Regions from separate parts of the Homo sapiens genome. Here all the other regions are reported to be linked to region 1. Evidence: microRNA targets listed by miRTarBase, many of them from high-throughput screens and not tested one by one. Region 1 holds a microRNA gene; each other region holds the end of a gene's coding sequence.
What was found. The annotated mature microRNA hsa-miR-1246 reads AAUGGAUUUUUGGAGCAGG and lies in region 1 at 2,433-2,451, shown strand. An mRNA with a match to its seed (bases 2 to 7 or 8) in the 3' UTR can be bound and repressed. Matches are read on the target gene's strand: a 7mer-m8 pairs with bases 2 to 8, a 7mer-A1 pairs with bases 2 to 7 and ends in A, and an 8mer does both.

Region 2: miRTarBase lists SRRT as a target of hsa-miR-1246. Seed matches in the 3' UTR shown: 7mer-A1 at 4,191-4,197.
Region 3: the mRNA of CKS2 is a reported target of hsa-miR-1246. Seed matches in the 3' UTR shown: 7mer-A1 at 4,549-4,555.
Region 4: the mRNA of PTPRD is a reported target of hsa-miR-1246. Seed matches in the 3' UTR shown: 7mer-A1 at 1,390-1,396.

The regions. Positions count from the first base shown.
Region 1 is chr2:176,598,324-176,603,474 of GRCh38, reverse strand. MIR1246 (microRNA 1246) reads left to right here and starts at 2,423; the gene lies at 2,423-2,495.
Region 2 is chr7:100,887,624-100,892,774 of GRCh38, reverse strand. SRRT (serrate, RNA effector molecule) reads right to left here. Exons shown (of 20, transcript NM_015908.6): 17 at 4,916-5,072; 18 at 4,632-4,733; 19 at 4,392-4,518; 20 at 4,111-4,301. The coding sequence ends at 4,226. UFSP1 (UFM1 specific peptidase 1) reads left to right here and starts at 3,060. Exons shown (of 1, transcript NM_001430944.2): 1 at 3,060-4,054. The coding sequence starts at 3,276. The coding sequence ends at 3,932. It overlaps ACHE (acetylcholinesterase (Yt blood group)), which reads left to right. Exons shown (of 5, transcript NM_000665.5): 3 at 1-441; 4 at 1,437-1,606; 5 at 2,440-2,781. The coding sequence ends at 2,561. RefSeq lists enhancers at 1-80, 81-820, 1,101-1,833, 2,057-2,116, 1,834-2,567 and silencers at 1,617-1,666, 1,738-1,895, 2,987-3,036.
Region 3 is chr9:89,315,926-89,321,076 of GRCh38, reverse strand. CKS2 (CDC28 protein kinase regulatory subunit 2) reads right to left here. Exons shown (of 3, transcript NM_001827.3): 3 at 4,374-4,704. The coding sequence ends at 4,652. It overlaps SECISBP2 (SECIS binding protein 2), which reads right to left and starts at 2,577. Exons shown (of 17, transcript NM_024077.5): 1 at 2,465-2,577; 2 at 1,280-1,425. The coding sequence starts at 2,500. RefSeq lists a silencer at 2,218-2,537 and an enhancer at 2,708-2,927.
Region 4 is chr9:8,313,211-8,318,361 of GRCh38, reverse strand. PTPRD (protein tyrosine phosphatase receptor type D) reads left to right here. Exons shown (of 46, transcript NM_002839.4): 46 at 420-4,116. The coding sequence ends at 488. Among named protein-coding and RNA genes, the nearest start is that of DMAC1, 520 kb to the right of the region's middle.

The DNA of each region.
Region 1 (5,151 bases):
CTCTTTTATCTTCATGACACCCCTTAGAATTGTTCCAAGGCAGATAACTCATGGGCTAAGATCTGGCCTCTTGAGCTTCCAGTACAATGTCTAAAGTAGAAAGCTTAAGAGACATTGGCCGAGTCATAGCCACTTGCAAAATCTTGCATCTTCTGGACTAAGAGATCATTTGTCTAATTGTTTTCATTGCTTTTGAGTTCTTTCCAAAGTTAATTCCCAACCTTAATTAGTTCTAGTTATGAGATCTCCAAGACTATATTCTTTGTAAACATATGCTACTTTATTAGTTAAGTCTAAATATTTATGAAATCTTTCAGTCTAGTAGTTTGGCTTCTCTGATAATTGTGGTCTTTATCTCTTTATAAAATGAGATACTGAAAGAGACACATTCAGCCTTGGTGCCTAGACCTGGCAGAAAGCAGAAAATGGTCTATTTTCCCTTATTTGTCTTCATTTTATTTTTAATCTGAGTCCATGTTGGCAGAGGAGGTTGGAACAGAATAAAACAGACAAATGACTGAGTGAATAGAAGGTAGGTGTATCAAAGATGAAGAAGGGGCCAAATTTGTAAGCATAAGTAAGGACCACATAACATTCTTCAACACTGATGGCTTTGTTGTATCCAAAAGTTTTTTTAAACTCTTTTCAAGGTAGCCCCAAATGACCTGTGCCTGCCCATGTATCTCCAGGGTGCTTTGGCTCTGCCTACAGACTACCTCACTCAACTAAGAACCTGAGTGGTTTGTCTGAACCTGAAACTATTGCCTCACAGATGTGTACAGAAGACCCACGGGTATGTTCACATCAGTAAAAAAAATGGGTCCATAGCTTAACTGCTGTGCTTCTTAGCTAAGGTCTTTGGATAAACTCCAAAGCAATAAATCATCACATATGCCAGGAAAGAAATTTTTTTGGAGTTGGAGTTATTATATGGCCCTAATATATACTACCACATAAGAATAACAATAATAATAATGGATACCCTACAACTTTTCCACTTACAATACACATGTCAGTAGTGATGTCTTGGAATGACCTATTATGTCATATGGGACAGCAGTGTTCTTTCTCAGAAATGTCAATGGAGATAAACAGATCAACTGAGGGTTAGCAGTGACAGGACATACAATTGTAGCAGAGCACGTTATTAGATGGGTGGACAGCATGTGAAGTCATAGAAAGTTAAGAAGTAGCGAAAACTATGAATAAGGATAAGGAAGTAGAGAAAATATATAAAGTGGTTTTAAACTTGAATGCCTTCATCTGAAAAAAAGTAAATGTACGGATTTGCAACTAAGTGGCAAAAATTAATACATGCCTTGCCAAAAACATTCAAATTCAAAATTTGATCTAAATATTAAGCTGGCCAAATAAAGCACAACTTCAGGCTGTATTTGGCTTCTTGGCCACCATTTTCTGAATCTTGGAAGAGATGGAAGAAAGAAGCTGGTCAGTGTCGAGAGAGCAGTGGCCACAGCAAGAGGACAGCAACGTCACAGAGAACAGACACAATGGGAGCAAGAACATGTCACCTGAAAAGGAGAGAGAGAGGTGGCCAGAGGAGACCTAGAGTGTTCTCTATCCCCTGGGACTTTGCTTTCTTCTTCCAATTCCAGTCCACGTGTGATCTTGCAATAAAGGTGTTTCTTTTAAAGGAGTCTGGATAAGAGTCACTTTTTCAGAGTCATCACCTACATGCCTTTGCTGATTTTCATAAAAACCCTACAGAGTAGAGGGCTGGAAATTGGGGTCCTGGGGCCTTGTCTAGTGCTGCTTTCAACACAACCCTAAGAATTATGTTCAGTGTAGCGTGACTGAGAAGCACACATAAATGTTTCCTCCTAATGCATTGCATTTCAAACCTATTTGATTCACAATGGCCATGCGGTCATTTCTTTTAAAATCCTTGGAGAAAAGTTGCTCCACAAAGAGGAATTAATGGTGGTCTTACCAGTGCTGGGAGAGTTATCTTCTCAAACTCATCCAATTCTGTCTGCAGAAAACCACACAGAGGATCTGAACACCTAAATATGTCATCACATGAAGAATATGAAGTAACTATGTAAAATAATACAGCCATACATTAGCCTAAATAGTGCTAATAAATTGTTAGGCTTAGCAGGAAATGGAAAATCACTAATGGAATAATGAAGAGTTTGTTTATTCCTGGAGCAGATGGCCATCATTCGTCATGTTCCCAGTTCCCCTGCTAAGAGCAGTAGCTAACAGGCTTGCTTGAGGTGATGAAGCAAGCCCAGGAAACCACTGCTTTCTAATTGCTAAAGGAAGTACAATTGTCACTCTAGGACCGAGAGAATTAACAGGGAGAATAATCCACATCAAGGGAACTTAGTAATGTGAACCATCAATGAAGTAGGACTGGGCAGAGATAAGAGACATTGCATTTGGAGGCGGTCAGATTTGTATCCTTGAATGGATTTTTGGAGCAGGAGTGGACACCTGACCCAAAGGAAATCAATCCATAGGCTAGCAATCAACCTATTTTTTGTTTTTGTAGCATTTGATCGTTATCGAGTTTTGCTGAATCCTACTTCTCTCTTTGTAAAACGGAAAAATAACAATACCTAACTCAAAGGGCTATTGCAAACACTGAATGAGATACAGCAAATGATGTGCCAGGCATGGTACCTATGACATGGGACATAGTAATGGTTAATTATTGCTATTGTTTAGCTAAAGCAGCAGTCAAATAGCCCTGAAACCAAGGTTCTATGTTTTTAAGGCCAAACTAGGAGGGTAAACTTTTGTAAACTTCTATTCACTATCAGAGTCAAAAAGAAGTACAGGTGGGTGGATCATAGTACCAGCTACAATTCACTTATTCATTCATTCGAAAACAAAATTTACTCTTGAATTAAAGTAGAGAAGAAAACTGATTGCTGCCAGAAATGATCAAAACCTGCTTTGTAGGATGTTACTTTACTTTGTAACAAAAATTAGAGAAATTAAATAATTTTTCTTTTTTGTTATGAAGAAGAAATATCAAAGTTACATGTTGGTGATATAAGGCAAGGTACACACCACACCCCAGTGATCTTTCTTTGGCATATAAATCAGTACACATAAGTGATGGTAATGCTGTCAGTGTAGCAAAATACGCTGTGGTAGACGCTGTGATGAAGCCCATCGTGAATGACACACACCTGTTCTCCAATTTCTCATCCTCACTTGCAGCAGCGTGACATCAAGAGGGATTATAGACTGAGAGACTGGGTAGAGGGTGTATTAGTCTGTTCTTGCTTTGCTATAAAGAACTGCCTGAGACTGGGTAATTTACAAAGAAAAGAGGTTTAATTGACTCACAGCTCCACAGGCTGTACAGGGAATATGACTGGGGAGGCTGCAGAAAACTTACAATCATGGCGAAAGGCGAAGGGAAAGCAGGCCAGAGCAGGAGGGAGAGGGCAAAAAGGGAGCTGTTACGCATTTCTAAACAACCAGATCTTGTGAGAACTTACTCATTATCACAAGAACAGCAGGGGGGATGTCGCCTCATGATCTAATCAACTCCCACCAGGACCCTCCTCCAACACTGGGGATCACAATTTGACATGAGATTTGGGTGGGGACACAAATCCAAACCAGATCAGAGGGCTTTGTTTTTTTTCGTCGTGATTTTTCAATTTTAAGGTTCTTGAAGGCAGAAATTGTGTCTTGTTCATGATCTCTTGGGCATATTCATAGGCCTCAACCACCAAATTAAAGATAGCTTAGAAATAAAAAATGGGCAGTTATTAATTGCAACAACATTCATATACAGGAGTCATTTTCTTTCTTTGAAGTGCTTTATGAACTTGAGCAAAGGCCAGTTTGAGGAGTAAGTTTCTTCAGCTTGTTCATGGTAAGTGATCGAAAGTTAGGCAGAGAAAGTGGCCTAGGCATGTGGCATTCCTCCACTTTGGCCAACTTATCTCTCAAAGTCAGACTCATCATGTGCTGTGCAATAATGGAGACAGGCGAATCAGAGAGGCTCTGACTTAGAGCACTGGAGGTGACTTCCTTTCCGCCAGCCTGTTTGTCTTCAGATTCCTTAGAGCAGTTGCTCCAACTCTCATCTTATGAACGGCTGGTTATCCTTGACACTGGGGGACTAAAGTCATCTTCTCCCTTCTCAGGGACACAAACAAAAATGACACTACCTTGAGATAATACCTAACACGAATTATTCCACCACATCATATCTTGGGGCTCAGATACTGTATTCTTTCCTAGTCTAACACATGCAGCAAGAATACATGGCAACTATAATAAATGCTTCTAATTAACAAATAAAAATACATCTGCGCCAAGTGAGAGATATAGCTGCTTAAGAACCCTCCTTGGCTGCTGGGCTTGCCTATGATGGATCAAAGCTTTTAAACACATCATAATGACAAAAGGGATGGGATTTTCAGACCCTTTCATCCACGGAATGGCTTTTGGGCTTACTCTGCAGAAAGATTTTTTTCCCTACTTGTAAGAAATGAGTTTAAGCCAGAATCAAATTTTGATACTTTAAAAAAAAAAAATTCAGCCAGTACAATTGATAGCACCAGTTAAAGGAATGAAACACTTTTGCATGGAAACAATGATTCATGAACTGCTCTTGCCTACAGGAGATGAAACCATTTGGGCTTTCCTCAGCAATGCTTATATTACTGGCAACATTTAAAAAAACTTCATTATATAGAGAAAATTCCAGCCTTCAATTTTTCTTCTTGAGAGGGTTCAGTGGTTGCTTTGGTATATGTGTGTCTCTTGGTGAGTGTGTGTGTGCATGTGGGCACACACATGAGTGTGTTTCATAAAATTAGATTCTAGCAAAGGGAAAGCGCATTTATGCAAAAGCAATTCATCAACCACTTCTGTGGTCAGAATTCACCGAGGTAATTTAGATACTTTAATGGCAAGGTAGTTTAGGTAGGTAGGAGGCAATGTCCCCTCCCCTATCTAACAGCTATGGTAATAGAAAATGTGTGCTCTAAATGAATCTTTTCAGGAAAGTAATTCTCATTTTAATTATTTATCCACTACCAAATATAAAATATAATTACATAGCCAATGTCCATGGGAACAAAATCCACAGTGCAGTATAGAGTATGAGAGCTTTCTGCTTTTAGAAATTTTCCATTAAAAAAATAAGATTAGCCA
Region 2 (5,151 bases), not on the chromosome of region 1:
TTACGGGGCCCCAGGCTTCAGCAAAGACAACGAGTCTCTCATCAGCCGGGCCGAGTTCCTGGCCGGGGTGCGGGTCGGGGTTCCCCAGGTAAGTGACCTGGCAGCCGAGGCTGTGGTCCTGCATTACACAGACTGGCTGCATCCCGAGGACCCGGCACGCCTGAGGGAGGCCCTGAGCGATGTGGTGGGCGACCACAATGTCGTGTGCCCCGTGGCCCAGCTGGCTGGGCGACTGGCTGCCCAGGGTGCCCGGGTCTACGCCTACGTCTTTGAACACCGTGCTTCCACGCTCTCCTGGCCCCTGTGGATGGGGGTGCCCCACGGCTACGAGATCGAGTTCATCTTTGGGATCCCCCTGGACCCCTCTCGAAACTACACGGCAGAGGAGAAAATCTTCGCCCAGCGACTGATGCGATACTGGGCCAACTTTGCCCGCACAGGGTCAGCAGTGCAGAGGGAGAGAAGGCTGGGGAGGACAGGAGTCGGGGGCGGGAGGACACACAAAGGCAGACACACGGAGACAGAAAGGACGGGTGGGACAGGGGCAGGATAGAACAGCCAGAGAGGGATATGCTCACAAAGTAGATAAAAGGGGAGAGAAAAAGAAAGGAGACAGAGAAGGCAGAGGGGGTCTTGCAGAGACAGAGGCAAAGGAAAGTGAGGAGGAGACGAGGTAGACATGGAGGGGGCGGGGCACAGTGGCTCACCCCTGTAATTCCAGCCCTTTGGGAGGCCAAGGTGGGAGGATCCCCTGAGGCCAGGAGTTTGAGACCAGACTGGACAACATAACAAGACCCCGACTCTTAAAAAGAAAAAAAATACAAAACTTAGCCAGGCACGGTGGCTCGTGCCTCTAGTCCCAGCTACTTGGGAAGGTGAGGCAGGAGGATTGCTTGAGCCTGGGAGGTTGAGGCTGCAGTGAGCTATGATGGCACCACTGCACTCCAGCCTGAGTGGCCCTATCTCTGGAAAAAAAAAAAAAAAAAAAAAAGGGAGACCAAGACAAAGGAGTTGGAGCTGGATTAAGTCAAACCAGTGATGATTCACTAGCAGTGACACATTCTCTCACACACACACCAGTTTACCTGGATCGAGAAGAGGACAATGAAATCTAGCATTGGATGGGTGTTGTTAAAAAATGTGATGTTTGTAGACATAGGACCCGTCCTGGTTATTTAGGAAAGTCTCAAGACATCCTAGCCATTTTTTTAGTGAGAGAAACAAAGATGGAACAGAAAAGCTGAGGGAAACGGAAGGAGACGGAGCGCTTGAGGAAGGGAAGACCCCAATGACCGCGCACATTGGAGAAAGTGGTGGGAGGGAGGGGACGGGTTCTCTGGGGCTCTCCGCTGAGCTGAAGAGTCCGGGATCCCGTGGAGTTGGGGGCCACCTCCTCCCACTGCCCGTCTGGACTGAGCCTTCCCTTCCTTCCGCAGGGATCCCAATGAGCCCCGAGACCCCAAGGCCCCACAATGGCCCCCGTACACGGCGGGGGCTCAGCAGTACGTTAGTCTGGACCTGCGGCCGCTGGAGGTGCGGCGGGGGCTGCGCGCCCAGGCCTGCGCCTTCTGGAACCGCTTCCTCCCCAAATTGCTCAGCGCCACCGGTATGCAGGGGCCAGCGGGCAGCGGCTGGGAGGAGGGGAGTGGGAGCCCGCCAGGTGTAACCCCTCTCTTCTCCCCCTAGCCTCGGAGGCTCCCAGCACCTGCCCAGGCTTCACCCATGGGGAGGCTGCTCCGAGGCCCGGCCTCCCCCTGCCCCTCCTCCTCCTCCACCAGCTTCTCCTCCTCTTCCTCTCCCACCTCCGGCGGCTGTGAACACGGCCTCTTCCCCTACGGCCACAGGGGCCCCTCCTCTAATGAGTGGTCGGACCGTGGGGAAGGGCCCCACTCAGGGATCTCAGACCTAGTGCTCCCTTCCTCCTCAAACCGAGAGACTCACACTGGACAGGGCAGGAGGAGGGGGCCGTGCCTCCCACCCTTCTCAGGGACCCCCACGCCTTTGTTGTTTGAATGGAAATGGAAAAGCCAGTATTCTTTTATAAAATTATCTTTTGGAACCTGAGCCTGACATTGGGGGGAAGTGGGAGGCCCCGGACGGGGTAGCACCCCCCATTGGGGCTATAACGGTCAACCATTTCTGTCTCTTCTTTTTCCCCCAACCTCCCCCTCCTGTCCCCTCTGTTCCCGTCTTCCGGTCATTCTTTTCTCCTCCTCTCTCCTTCCTGCTGTCCTTCTCCGGCCCCGCCTCTGCCCTCATCCTCCCTCTCGTCTTTCGCACATTCTCCTGATCCTCTTGCCACCGTCCCACGTGGTCGCCTGCATTTCTCCGTGCGTCCTCCCTGCACTCATACCCCCCCTTCAACCCGCCCAAATGTCCGATCCCCGACCTTCCTCGTGCCGTCCTCCCCTCCCGCCTCGCTGGGCGCCCTGGCCGCAGACACGCTCGACGAGGCGGAGCGCCAGTGGAAGGCCGAGTTCCACCGCTGGAGCTCCTACATGGTGCACTGGAAGAACCAGTTCGACCACTACAGCAAGCAGGATCGCTGCTCAGACCTGTGACCCCGGCGGGACCCCCATGTCCTCCGCTCCGCCCGGCCCCCTAGCTGTATATACTATTTATTTCAGGGCTGGGCTATAACACAGACGAGCCCCAGACTCTGCCCATCCCCACCCCACCCCGACGTCCCCCGGGGCTCCCGGTCCTCTGCATGTCTCAGGCTGAGCTCCCTCCCCCGCGGTGCCTTCGCCCCTCTGGGCTGCCAATAAACTGTTACAGCCACGGGAGTGTGCGCGACTAGGGAGCCAGGGGTAGAGGCAGAACGCCGGAATCACGGGGGCCGAGTCTATGCAGGAGCGGGGCTGGAGGGCAAGAAACAGGCGAGCTCCGAGGCGGGCGCAAGGCAAAGGCCAACCCCTAGCCCTGCCCTGCCGGGCGGAGCTCGCGCCTGCGTAATGAGGCCCGCAGGCAGGCTAGCTGGCACGGCGGAGGGGAGGAGAGGGGAGGGGAGGGGAGGGGAGGGGAGGGGAGGGGCGGGGCGGGGCGGGGCGCGGCGGAGCATTGTGGGAGCTCCTCGGTCGGTGCCGGTCGGTGGCTGCCTATTGCGGCCTGCGGTGATCAACGAGGCCCGGGGAGCGCGTCCCCAGTCTGCGCGCCGGTCCTGCGGCAGCTGGCCCAAGACCCGGAGCCGAAAGGAAGTGTTGGAGCCTGAGGTCGCTCCGCGCCGCTAGGAGGACGCTGTGCCTGGCCTGGGACCTCCGCTCCCGCCCACCGCCCTGGAGCCGCTGAGGGACGTCCACGTGGGCCTGTCCCCGCCGAGCCGCGGCCCTGTCCGCCTGGCGCTGCTCTCGGGCCACTACCTCTACTACCACTACGGCTGCGACGGCCTGGACGACCGCGGCTGGGGCTGCGGCTACCGCACTCTGCAGACGCTGTGCTCGTGGCCAGAGGGCCAGCCCGCGGGCGTACCTGGACTGGCCGCCGTACAGGCGGCCCTGGAGGACATGGGCGACAAGCCCCCCGGCTTCCGGGGCTCCCGGGACTGGATCGGCTGCGTGGAGGCCAGCCTCTGCCTCGCTCACTTCGGAGGGCCCCAGGGACGCCTCTGCCACGTACCCCGGGGAGTGGGGCTGCACGGGGAGCTGGAGAGGCTTTACTCGCACTTCGCAGGGGGTGGGGGCCCAGTCATGGTTGGGGGGGACGCAGATGCCAGGTCCAAGGCCTTGCTGGGAGTCTGCGTAGGGTCAGGCACGGAAGCCTATGTCCTGGTATTGGACCCTCACTACTGGGGCACTCCAAAAAGCCCCAGTGAACTACAGGCTGCTGGGTGGGTGGGCTGGCAAGAGGTGAGTGCAGCCTTTGACCCCAACTCCTTCTACAACCTGTGCTTGACCAGCCTTAGCTCCCAACAGCAGCAGCGCACCTTGGACTGAGGACGAAGTTACAGAACTGAGATTCTCGGGTCCCAGACACGCACCTATGTACCTCCCACTGGTGTCCCTGCAAAGCCTGGCGCTTTTGACATCAATAATAAAAGTGGCAGGGCTGAGCAACACCTCAGGAGTTACTCTGGAAGGATGGAGGAGTTATGTAACACACGAGAGTCAGGAGCCCTGTGGAAGTGCTTTTATTAGCAGTAAGGCTGATCGTACAAAAAATTCTCAGAGCTTCATAGGACAAGGTAGTACAAGTATGGATGATACAGGACTGAGGAACGGGGGACGGCTCAAAAGAAATCAACATCGTCTGGGGCATCCAGGTCCCGATATTCCACAATGGCCCTTGGGTCTCCACGAACCATCCTGTGAGGTGAGAGGTACAGGATGAGAGCTGAGGGCTCCCAAAAGGGAGTCTGCAGGCGGCAACAAAGCTTGGGCGTCTGCCCTCCTCACCTGTTGCGAGGTTTCCCAGGATAACCTCCCTGGCCTCGGAAGGCATCATAGTTCCCTCGACCAGCACCATACGGGGCATGGGGGTATGGAGGGCCTCCTGTGGGGACTGCAGGGCGGACAGCACCAGCTATGACAGAGATCAGTGTTGAGTTGCAAAACTATGTCCTCAATTCCATCCTCTGTTTTCTTCTCCCAAAGCCACACACTCACCAAGCCCCTTCATCTCCCTCCTGTACTTACCTCCATAGCCCAAGATCGGGGGCCGGGGCTGACCATAGGGCATCAGGCCCTGGGGAGTCTGGTGTGGGTAGGGGAGTCCTGGGGTCAAACCTGGGGGGAGTACAACACGGACAGGGACATGAATTACTGCGGGGGCGGGGAGGGGGATACGGGTACAATTGACTTCTAGGGCTATGGCCTGAGGATGGGGCAGAAACTTCTCGGGGTGACACGTTAAAGAGAAACAGGAGTCCCTGGGTAGTCAAGGAAGAGGGCACATGCGACCTTCATGGATCGTATCTTACTCTGGGCGGGGCCAGGTGGCTGGGCTGGCTTGATCTCAGGCAGAGCTGGGCGCTTAGCATCAGTGAGGAAGTTGTTAAAAAACGCGACTTCCTTTTTCACTTCCTCAATTTTCTCTGCATGCTTGTTGAAGATATGTTTGCGCACAAACTCAGGACCCTGGGTGGAGAGAGGAGAGGGGTCAGGACAGCCACATAAGGGTTGCCTCGCTCCCAGGCCCGAGCTGGAAGGATTCCCA
Region 3 (5,151 bases), not on the chromosome of region 1:
GTAGTGTTTCAACTTTCGTCAAAAAAATACAACTTTCAGTATTTCCTAAACACAAAAGACAACTCAATCATTTTCTTATTCATTACAATTCTCATTCTTGCAAATATAATTCTAGAATTTATATACAGTACAAACTATTTTCAATTACATCATGCAGGCACAAATAAAAGGAAACAAGTTAGAATCATATCAAAGAAGAAAAAAGCATTAGGATTCTTAGATTAGAACTACACCTGATGCAAATCTTAAAAACAGATCTACAAATAAATCTACACAATTATGTGAAAGATTAATACTTTTTTTGTCTAAATTCAGCTGCAAGAGGAAGCCATTTTGTAAACCTAGAGAATGAATCCTGAGAAGGAAAAAGAAAATGTAAGGAAAAATGTAAGCCTTCTTTCAACTCAAATTTAGAAGAACTTAAGCCTGAAATGTGTAAAATTCATCTCCATATTAACAGATATAAAGTAAAAAGGTGGAAAGCAAAAGTCAACAATTTCCAAAAAATTATCCACACAGAGGCAGCTATGGTTGCTAGTCCCCTCCCCTTCGCTCAACAAGATTTTAAAATGTTAACCTTAAAAAGGAGGAGTACGTTTATTTGGTCCTTTCTTTGCCCTTCCCTCCACATTTCATCTCCCATTAGATATATGATATATTTTTAAACCATATGAACAAATGAACCTTGAAACGGGATTTTTTTTTTTTTTTTTTTTTTTTTGAGACAGAGTCTCACTCTGTCAGCCAGGCTTGAGTGTAGTGGTGCTATCTTGGCCCACTGCAACCTCTGCCTCCCAGGTTCAAAGGATTCTGCTGCCCCAGTCTCCCGAATACCTGGGATTACAGGTGTCCGCCACCATACCTGATTAATTTTTGTATTTTTGTGGAGACGGAGTTTCACCATGTTGGTCACACTGGTCTTGAACTCCTGACCTCAGGTGATCCACCCACCTCGGCCTCCCAAAGTGCTGGGATTACAGGCGTGAGCCACAGCGCCTGGCCTGAAACTGCATTTCTTATTAACAAATGCAATGCAGTCTCTACTATTTCTTTGCCGAAAATAACAATGAGTATGAAGAAAAAAAAGGGGAGTTAAAGCTTCTGTTTTTGGCACAGGATACAGTTAAGTTGTGCTACTGGCTCAGACTCTTCTTGGTTGAAGAGCATTCTCTCATCATCTGCAGAACTTTAGTGCAGTAACTGCTGAGTATTTGAAAGTCTAATCACCATTAAATCCAAAATGTAAGCCCCTAGGTAAGACTTTTAGAAAGATACATACTCTGTCACTGGTGGTTCCTGAACAAACGGATAGTATGTGGCTGCAGAGCTGGGGAAGACACATGCTTCTGAGGACTCTAACCATGCCACATTGAGCCCGGCAAATCTGGGGACAAATGGTTTGACATCTGCTGATAACTTGATGCCCTGAGGAAAAATATGAGGTTTTGGCCACAAACATTCAGAGATCAAGCAAATATAAACAAACAAAAAGACCCAAGAGGTGTTCCTAATAGCCCCAGAAATGTTCCCGATGTTGTTTAAAAACTTCTGCCTCGTAAAGACAAGAACCTGCTTGCTAACGATTTCTCCCCAATGCTTTTTTTTTTGTAGAAAAGGCAGTAGTTCAAACATTAAAAGTGAAAAATGACAACGAATTCAAGTGGAAATAAAACAACACAGATTATATAGTTTAGATCTTGGAATAAGGGTGTTTTTACCACAGATTCACTTAGAAATAATAGAACTGCACACAGTACAACTACTGCAGTCAAATACACGTGGACTGTTTAACTACAGCACCCAAAACACACTGCAGACGTTTATTTCCATTACATTTTCTTGAAAAAGTTGCACAAAAGCATATGCATTTTACTCATGAACCACTAAGTCTTGCTTTATTGAAATACCAAACCTTGCTTTGCTAGAAAATATTATCACCACGAGCCTTTGAAATTTCAATTCACTAAGATTTCTTTCTTTAGTTTTTAGTGACGTAGTAAGAGATTTACTTTCACCGAGAATTTTATGGGTCTAAAAATGATGCAAGCGATCGCCAGGGCTCCATCTAGTGGTAATGCTGAGTACGTAGAGCGGAGAATGACGTTCAGAAAAACGCAGGATCCTTTAAAACAATCTATCCGTTCCCAAGAGCGCGGGAAGCTCGCCAGAGTCCCCCCGCCCCGACTGCGGGGAGCGCCGGGCTGGGCCGCAGTCACTGCGCTGGGTGACATCGCACCACAGACGCGGCGCTAACTGTGGGCGGGGTCTGTAGCCGCTGACCGCCACCCCAAGGCGGACCCGAGGCGGGGCGCGAAGATCGCGGCCACCCGGTAGGGCGCTCCCGTGCCGTCACCAGCATCCGACCCACGCCCGCTGGACCAGCCCCGTCACCGCCCGGCCGAGCCCCCAGTGCGAGGCAGGCGGACGGACTGAGGCTGCCGAGAGAGCCCCCGTCGGCCCTTACCTCGCTTTCGGGCTCCCGCGGCCCCTCCGACGCCATGCCGCGAGGCGCGGAGGAGGCCGCGTCACGGAGGCCAGCAGCGGGCCGTCGGCTTGCCGGACAGACAAAGCGTTTCCGCCCCCGCAGGCGACGCCAGGAAGTGCGTCACAGCAAAGCGACAGAGCCCGCCCTTTCTTCCGGCCGGAAGTACGCGGCGGCGGCACTGGACCTGCGCGGGCAGCACGTGGAGGCAGTGGGGCGCTTGCGGAAAATGGGGACCCCCAGGAGTCCTCTGGGCTGGGGACCCACCGTAGCTTGCGGGAGTCTTGGATCTGCCTTTTAGTGCTGGGATATCGGAGATAGTCTCCACCAAGGCAGTAGCGACTATAAACAAGAGTTAGGCCGTGATTTACTTTTCTCCCCTGGGCCTCACGAGTCTAGCGTTAGGACGGGATGGGGTAGTCTGGAAAGGCCTCTCGCTGAGGTGACCTTTGAGCAGTCACCTGAAGAGAAAGATTTACTAATAAGGAAACTGAGGAGGCCGAGATTACTCTCACCCCCGCCACTGCATTTCCCTAAAATTTCCCCAAGATTGGTGACTTACAGGAATTGCATACCCTGTAGGTCCTACAAACCTGGAAAGCCTACAAGACTCTTGATGGTATCCTAAATTTCCAGAAACCTTAAGTTTGGAAGTAGCCACAGAAAATAATTTAAAAATCGCTCGGTTTCTTTCAAAAATTAAAAAAAGTGCTAAGATATGGTCAAGAGATGGAATAGTATAATTTTCACGAGAAAAAAAAAGTTCTACACAGAGCAAATTCGTTAAATATTGAGAGAAATGTATAAAGTGCGGCAGGGATAGGAGGTTGACCAAAAGTACAGGGAAGAATGCAGAGTGGATTTCAATAGATGGAGGAGGAACTTTCCTCTCACTCAAAGGCTTGGAGGAAAGTGCAAGTGGATTTAAGGAACAGAAAATGTCAGCAAAACAGGCTATTTGAGGAATGGGGATTAGGTTGAGGCAAATTGTAGGTTTCCTCTGTCCCTTGCACAGACGTTAACTCTACCATTGAATACGAAGTATTTCAAGCAAGTAAGGCAGGTGCAGCTCCAGTTTTTTCAGATTTCTGTCCTGGTGGGTCTCAGTTCACTACACAGCCTCTAGCAGAAGTGATCCTTAGGGTCTGGTCTGGCAGGAATTTATGCTGGAAGTTTAGGGGTAGCTGTCGCCTTCCTTTCAGCACTATTGGGTCTACCCGGAAGTGTAATGAAGTTTACTTGATTTTGTCATGTTTCTGTTGGTTACCCTGGACACAACCTATGGTAGTGGCAGTAGATTTTAGGATGCTGCTAATCACAACCTTCAAAATTTATTGCCCTCATGTGTAAAGACACCCTTTCTTAACCAATGGACCTGATGTATGCTGGCTGCTCATTTAAGATGTTTCTATAGCATAGCAATTAATTAGAATAACTCCAAAACACTTTCCTAGCAGCTAAAAAGGCAAAGGTGTTTTACAGTGTTTTTGAACTTTTAAAAATGTGGTGATACTTTATAGGAAACATTATCCCTACTTTGGAAATGTAGAAGAGGATAAAAAAGAGGTTTCTCCCAAGACCACCAGTGGCCAGTGAAGTAGCCCAGATAGTATTAATTTGGGCTTTCCTGTTCTAGACAATTCTCCAGGAATTCAAGAGGTAAAATCTACTTTGGCTTTAGTTTAAACATATCCCTGGTAATTAATTTCTTCATTAAGTGAATTAAATGGTATCCAGATCATACCGCACTATTTTAAACTCATTTAACATCATCTTTAAGGTAAGTTAACTTCCTCAGAGCTAAAACTATAACACTGAAATCAATTTCAATAGTCACAAATTTCAATAGTCACAAATTAAGAAAATATACCTCAAAAACTTGAAACAGTGATAAATGCAACATACAAACTTTATTGAACAAAAGTAAACTGTTTCAGTAAACTCAAACAGGCACTTAAGAGAAAAACTGACTGGAAGAACTTTTATCTTAAACATCTTACAGTAACCTACTTGCAGTTGCATTTAACTGAGCTCTGTTGCTGTGAAGAATACAGCTCATGCACAGGTATGGATGAAAGATTTGTACATTTCTCAAGTATTCACTGAATACTACCTTATATACACATATACATTAAATTTGAAAAAGATTTGACGATCCCCAGATAAACTTCATTTTTGTTGATCTTTTGGAAGAGGTCGTCTAAAGAGAAGAATATGTGGTTCTGTGGAAAGAAAATGTTTTGAATCATTTTAATATGATTTTCATATACTCAACAGAAATTCAAAAGTATTCTCAACTAAGCCAGAATAAAATAAACTAAGTCCACTATTAATTGGTTTGAGGTATCCAAAATGATTTTTTTTTCACAGTTACTGTCTACAGTAAATAGATTAAAAGTAAAAAGATTACCTCTTTATAGGGAAAAACACCTCCTTCAAATCACCTACAGGATCTCATACTAATGCTCATCCCCATAGATTCTGTTTCAATAGGTGGGGCACAGAAATCTACACTTAAGTTCTTCAGTTGCTTTTGTATTATCTGGACTGAATTCTAATAGGATTACGTATCTCAATCCCAAGAAAGTGATGAGTCCTTTTAGAGTTTTCGATGCAATGCTTTTCTTTAACAGCAGAGTAGAAGATAGTTTTAATTCCACCTACTTCAG
Region 4 (5,151 bases), not on the chromosome of region 1:
CTCTCTTAAATATTTAAACTGAGAATTAGTTATCTTGAATAAGCAGATAATTGTAAAGGATGATTTTCATCATTATCTGCTTATAAGGCATGTAAGAAGTTTATGTGTTCAATTGGTGGTAATGGTTTGATACTACTTGGAAAACACTTGTCTGGGAAGGTAATGTTCACTCGACCTGCCACTGCTTGGAATTGGGAGATCGTTTTAGTCAAATTGATTGGCAAAGTTAATCAACACCCCATGTGGCTTTTTCTTTGTTCACTATAAACAATTGGTCATTGGATTAGACCAGTTGACGAAAGTAGTGATTTTGCCCCTATATAGATGTTATTTTGTTATGCAATATTGATTTTTATTTTTCTATTAAAATATGCTCATGGTCCCTTCTTTTGCTTCTCCCCATTCATTGTCTCCTGCAGGATCAATATCAGTTTTCCTATCGTGCCGCACTAGAGTACCTGGGCAGCTTTGACCACTATGCAACGTAGAAACCCCTGACCCATTCTGGATTTTTACTACAGGCCCTTCAATATCCATGGAGTCTCTTCTGAGCCATACAGGGCACTTGAGAAGTCCTTCTTAACTTCTAGCTAACAACTACTTAGTGGGACTATTACACACAAAACAAATTAAAAACAAATTATTCCAGGTGGACCAAGAATTCACAGTTTAATAATCTAACCTGAAAAATAATGAAGAGAATCCTGACTGATGAGGCATCTGAAGGATTTTATTTACAGATACCTCAAGGATTCAAAATCAAGGGAAGAAGAAATCACAGCAAAGAACCACCATCTTATTCAGGATTGCTTGAAAGGTGCAAGGAGAAATTGCCAGAATGCTGCAGTTCAGCACAAGATATGTGCTGGTGTGGCTTCTCACAATGAAACGGACTCTGCTTTGACATCGCCCCTTCCCACCATACTGCTCATAATAACATTTTAGGGGGAAAGGGGAGGGAATGTTTAAAAAGAAAGTCCTTGATTTAGTTTTTTAGTATTGTAAAGATACTGCTGACCTGTGCTTCATTTCTAACTGTGTAAACTTTTTTTTAACAAAATGTATCATTCGATAAAGTGAATTTTAAAAAAGTTACATAACTCTTCATTTTTTTATTTCCAAATCGTAGGTTTTTTTAAGCTGTAGAACTGTTATCTGTAATATCTTGCTGTAGAAATATCAAATCATTTGAAAATTTGCACATTTTTGTGCAAAACTCAATCTACAGTATCAGTCTCGTCAGATATATTAATTTTACACTTCAGTTTTGATTGGTGAGAAAGTACCCATTCTCTTCAAATAATCAAAGATAATTATTATTTTGTTTTGTTTTTGGAATCAACAGGGAGGCGCAAAGTATAAAGTTGCTGCTAACATATATACATATATATCCATATTTTATAAGGGTGTCTATGTATATATAGACAGTGTGTCCACACAAAAAATAGATACAGTTATCAGTCAGTCAGTTCTTCCATGATTTAGTTTTTTTAAACGTAGAAAAGCTATTGTAAACATCTCTTTCCATTTATTCTTAATTTTTTGACATATTGGTATTTCTTTAAAGGGAAATGAGGAATGCACATCAGTGATTGATTGTCAAACCTCACCCCCTGATTTCCTACCTAATCTACCCCCACCTAACCAATCAATCACATCCACAAATTGTTTTGTTTGTTTGTTAGTCAGGCTTCCAACAAAGTTCAATATTTCTAACACTCTAGTGCAATAAAAATTATTATTAAATAGCTAAGAGGTGTGCATGTGGGAAAGGTCAGTGCATATCCCTTTAGGAGGGGAGAATGTTGTAATATATCAGCTATCGAGTTGTTTAAAAAAAGTGTATTCAATCGTATATTGTCTATAGTATGTGCTATGAAATTTGCATTTATGATATGTAACAGGGGCAAAGCCAAATTCATGTTACTCTGTTCAGTCAGAAACATTTTGTGGCATACAGCATTCCTGGGAAGTGCTGTACTTTGTTTCGTTTTGGTTTTAGTTTTGCATTTAGAGTGCCTTATAATTGATGCCTATTTTAATAGCATTTCTTTTTAGCTTTTGGTTCGTATTTCCATTCACTGTTCGTATCTGTTACTTTCTATTAAAGCATTATCTGTTTACCACATGTACAAAAACTCTTTGAATAATATGCATTCCTAGTTTTCAGCCAAGTCGGGGATGTTAGTGATTGTACCAGCCCAAAGCACTTGGATAATCAGGGCCCTTCTTCCTTTTATAATCAATCATCAACATCAGAAAAAGCTACTTGTTTTATTTATATTCCCTTCCAAATCCGCTCTGGAACATGCAGTAACTGCACCAAACTTATTTTAGTAACAAATATCATTGGCAACTTTGGAATATATTTGATATTCCATTAGGATTTTTCTAAAAGGGGAAATAAACTATATATATATATGTATCTTACCCCCAATTCTTCCAACAGAATTTCTATAGGAAGCCATGGATGATGGCATAAGTTTGCCACATATTACATGATTTTAAATAATCCTCAAAATACCCAAGGAACTCTTAAAGAGTTTTGGTATGAGTATACTACTTTGGTTTAATTTTAGCTTCATGGATGTTCTGCATGGAAGGATTTTTGTTTTCCACATTTTCCCATTGCTAGCAGAGTGAAATCCAAGAGACCAAACATTTGCAAGCATTGTATTTGAGCACTTTTGTAAAAAACAAAGAAAAAGAAAAAAAAGAAAATATATATAATACTAAAAAAAAGTATCTAGAAGGCTACCTCAGAATGAGACTCTCTAACCTACATCAGAACCAGAGAAGAATGTGCACTATGTGGGTCTGTTATCATTATTTTCTTTTAGTTTGTATCTTTTTGGAGATTTATCCAAGTGCCAGATTACTCAGTGCTATAATTTTCTTTTAGTTAAACAAAGGGGGTCAGACAGACATTGCATCATCCAGACATGCCTTGTTGGACATGTAGAATCCGATGGAGCACTGCACACCAGAATGATTGGCCAATGAGCAGCTTCTCTCCCTGAAACAATAACTGCCCATTTGGCAAAGGGAAAGATGACAATAATCAGAAGAAGAAAATGAATGGGATGCATACCATAGACGAACGAGGCGGAGACTATTGCGGGAATCTTACTGTTCAGGAGCTGTTCCTAGAACTAACTCCCTTACTGTCATTGATGTGCATTCCACTCTGTGCTTTTCTGTACAACCATTCAAGTTTTAATTTCCCAGGTGAACCATCTTTATCTGCCATTACCACAAGCTTTCAAGTTTCCAGTTATTTTCATCATCATAACCAGTACGGTGCTATTATTTACCTATGTACGTGTAGTTATGTATAATTTTGTAATTAGTTACAATGGTAAAAAAAATCAAAATATATAAAAAGTGATTTGTACAGAACTTTATTTTAGCTCTTTTTTAAAAATGATTTGCATGGTTAGAAAACGGCGAGGACAGCCAGGGGAGGGAAGGGCCTCTAGGGAACTTTGCACTTTCTATACCTTTGTACTATGCACTGCCCTATTGATTCTACACCCAATAATGATATTACTTGAACCCATCTGTAAGAAACTGCTTCGGAAATTCATTTGTGTGTATGTAAATAACACAACATAGAAACAGGAAGGGAAAAAAGTCTGCAGTAATGCACGTATTTTTTTTCTTTCCTGTTTATTTTCGGTTTTGCTTTAAGTCCTTTTATTTTTAATTCCCTTTTTGTTTTTCTTTTTGGGTTTTGGTTCCTTTTGGGTTTATGGGTGCCCTGATACTCCAGCAGAGATCAGAAGGCTACAGATCCATTCTATCCATCCGTTATGTGGCTTTGCCATCCCAGCTTGGAGTGTCTTTACAAAGATAATAACAGTTGTGTTCTTTGCTCTCGTTTTGGATGCATAGACTGAAAAATTAAAACAAATAACTTGTAAAATGGCTTGTTAAAAAATACAATTACCTCTAATTAGTAGTACGCGTAAATGTTTTACAGAATGAAAGGCGTGCTTTTTATTTTCTTACTTCGTTACATTGGTGGCGAAAGAAGTCTGTATGAAAATCAGTTCTTTGCTGACACAAGTTCCATTTGTTACAAATGAATTCTAATAAAAATGTCAGTGTTATGCAGCCCTGGCCTTTGCTTTTGTCCATGCAAACACTTTGGTTTTGAACTGACTATTTGTTCTCTCTTCTCTTCTGGTTATCTAGTTAGTTCCTTGTACTAGTAAGAATTCTGTTTACCGAGAGACTACTGTTTACAAATATCTACCTTGAGGTAAGCACTTTTCACTGGTAAGCAAACAGAGACTCAGAGAAATAGTTTTTCCAAGTTCACAGAACAAAGAGGCATTGCTTTCATTCATATCAGAGATCACAGGCAATCTTTGATTCTGTGGAAGATTACTATATAGAAATTTAAGTGCACAACTGTATATATACATCTATATGTATGTATGTATTTTCATCTCGAAACAACTTTCATGCACATAAAAATAGCTCCATAGTGTTAATTTATTCATACCTTTGGGAACATGGCTAAGAAAATACTTGGTTTGCGTTATTTATTCAGTAATTCAATATGATCAAGTACCAATAATGGGTCAGAATTGTTCTAGGTATTGGAAATGCAGCTCTGAACAAATGAGATACTGCTGCTGTTTGCATACAGACTACAGTCTACTGAGAGAGGTTGGCACTGAAGTAATAGTAACATCACATGGGACCAGTGCTATGAAGGAAAGTGTAGGATCCTTGAAGTTAGGACTTTCAATTGTGAGTGACAGAAAGTCTGACTCAAATTGGTCTACAGGAAAAGAAAGGCGTTTACTGACTCATGTACTAAAAGATTAGGAATGGACTCATTTACTAGAAGAGTAGGAATACATCATCTTCAGGCATAACTTGATTCAGGGCTCAGTGATGCCTTCAGGACGTGATGTCTCTTCCCATCATCCAGCCTGATTCTACTTTCACAGTTTCAATTTTAAACTCCCTTTTTGTAGTCCCTGGAAGCTTTGGGATCATAACACCACAGAGCAGACAAGTGGAAGAGTTTACTTCCCCCAACAACACAACCAAAAGTCCTAGAATGGAGTGAATTCTTCTTGATCCTAATTGAACCTGTCTTGGGGTAAGCGATGATCTCAGGAACACAAGTATGGA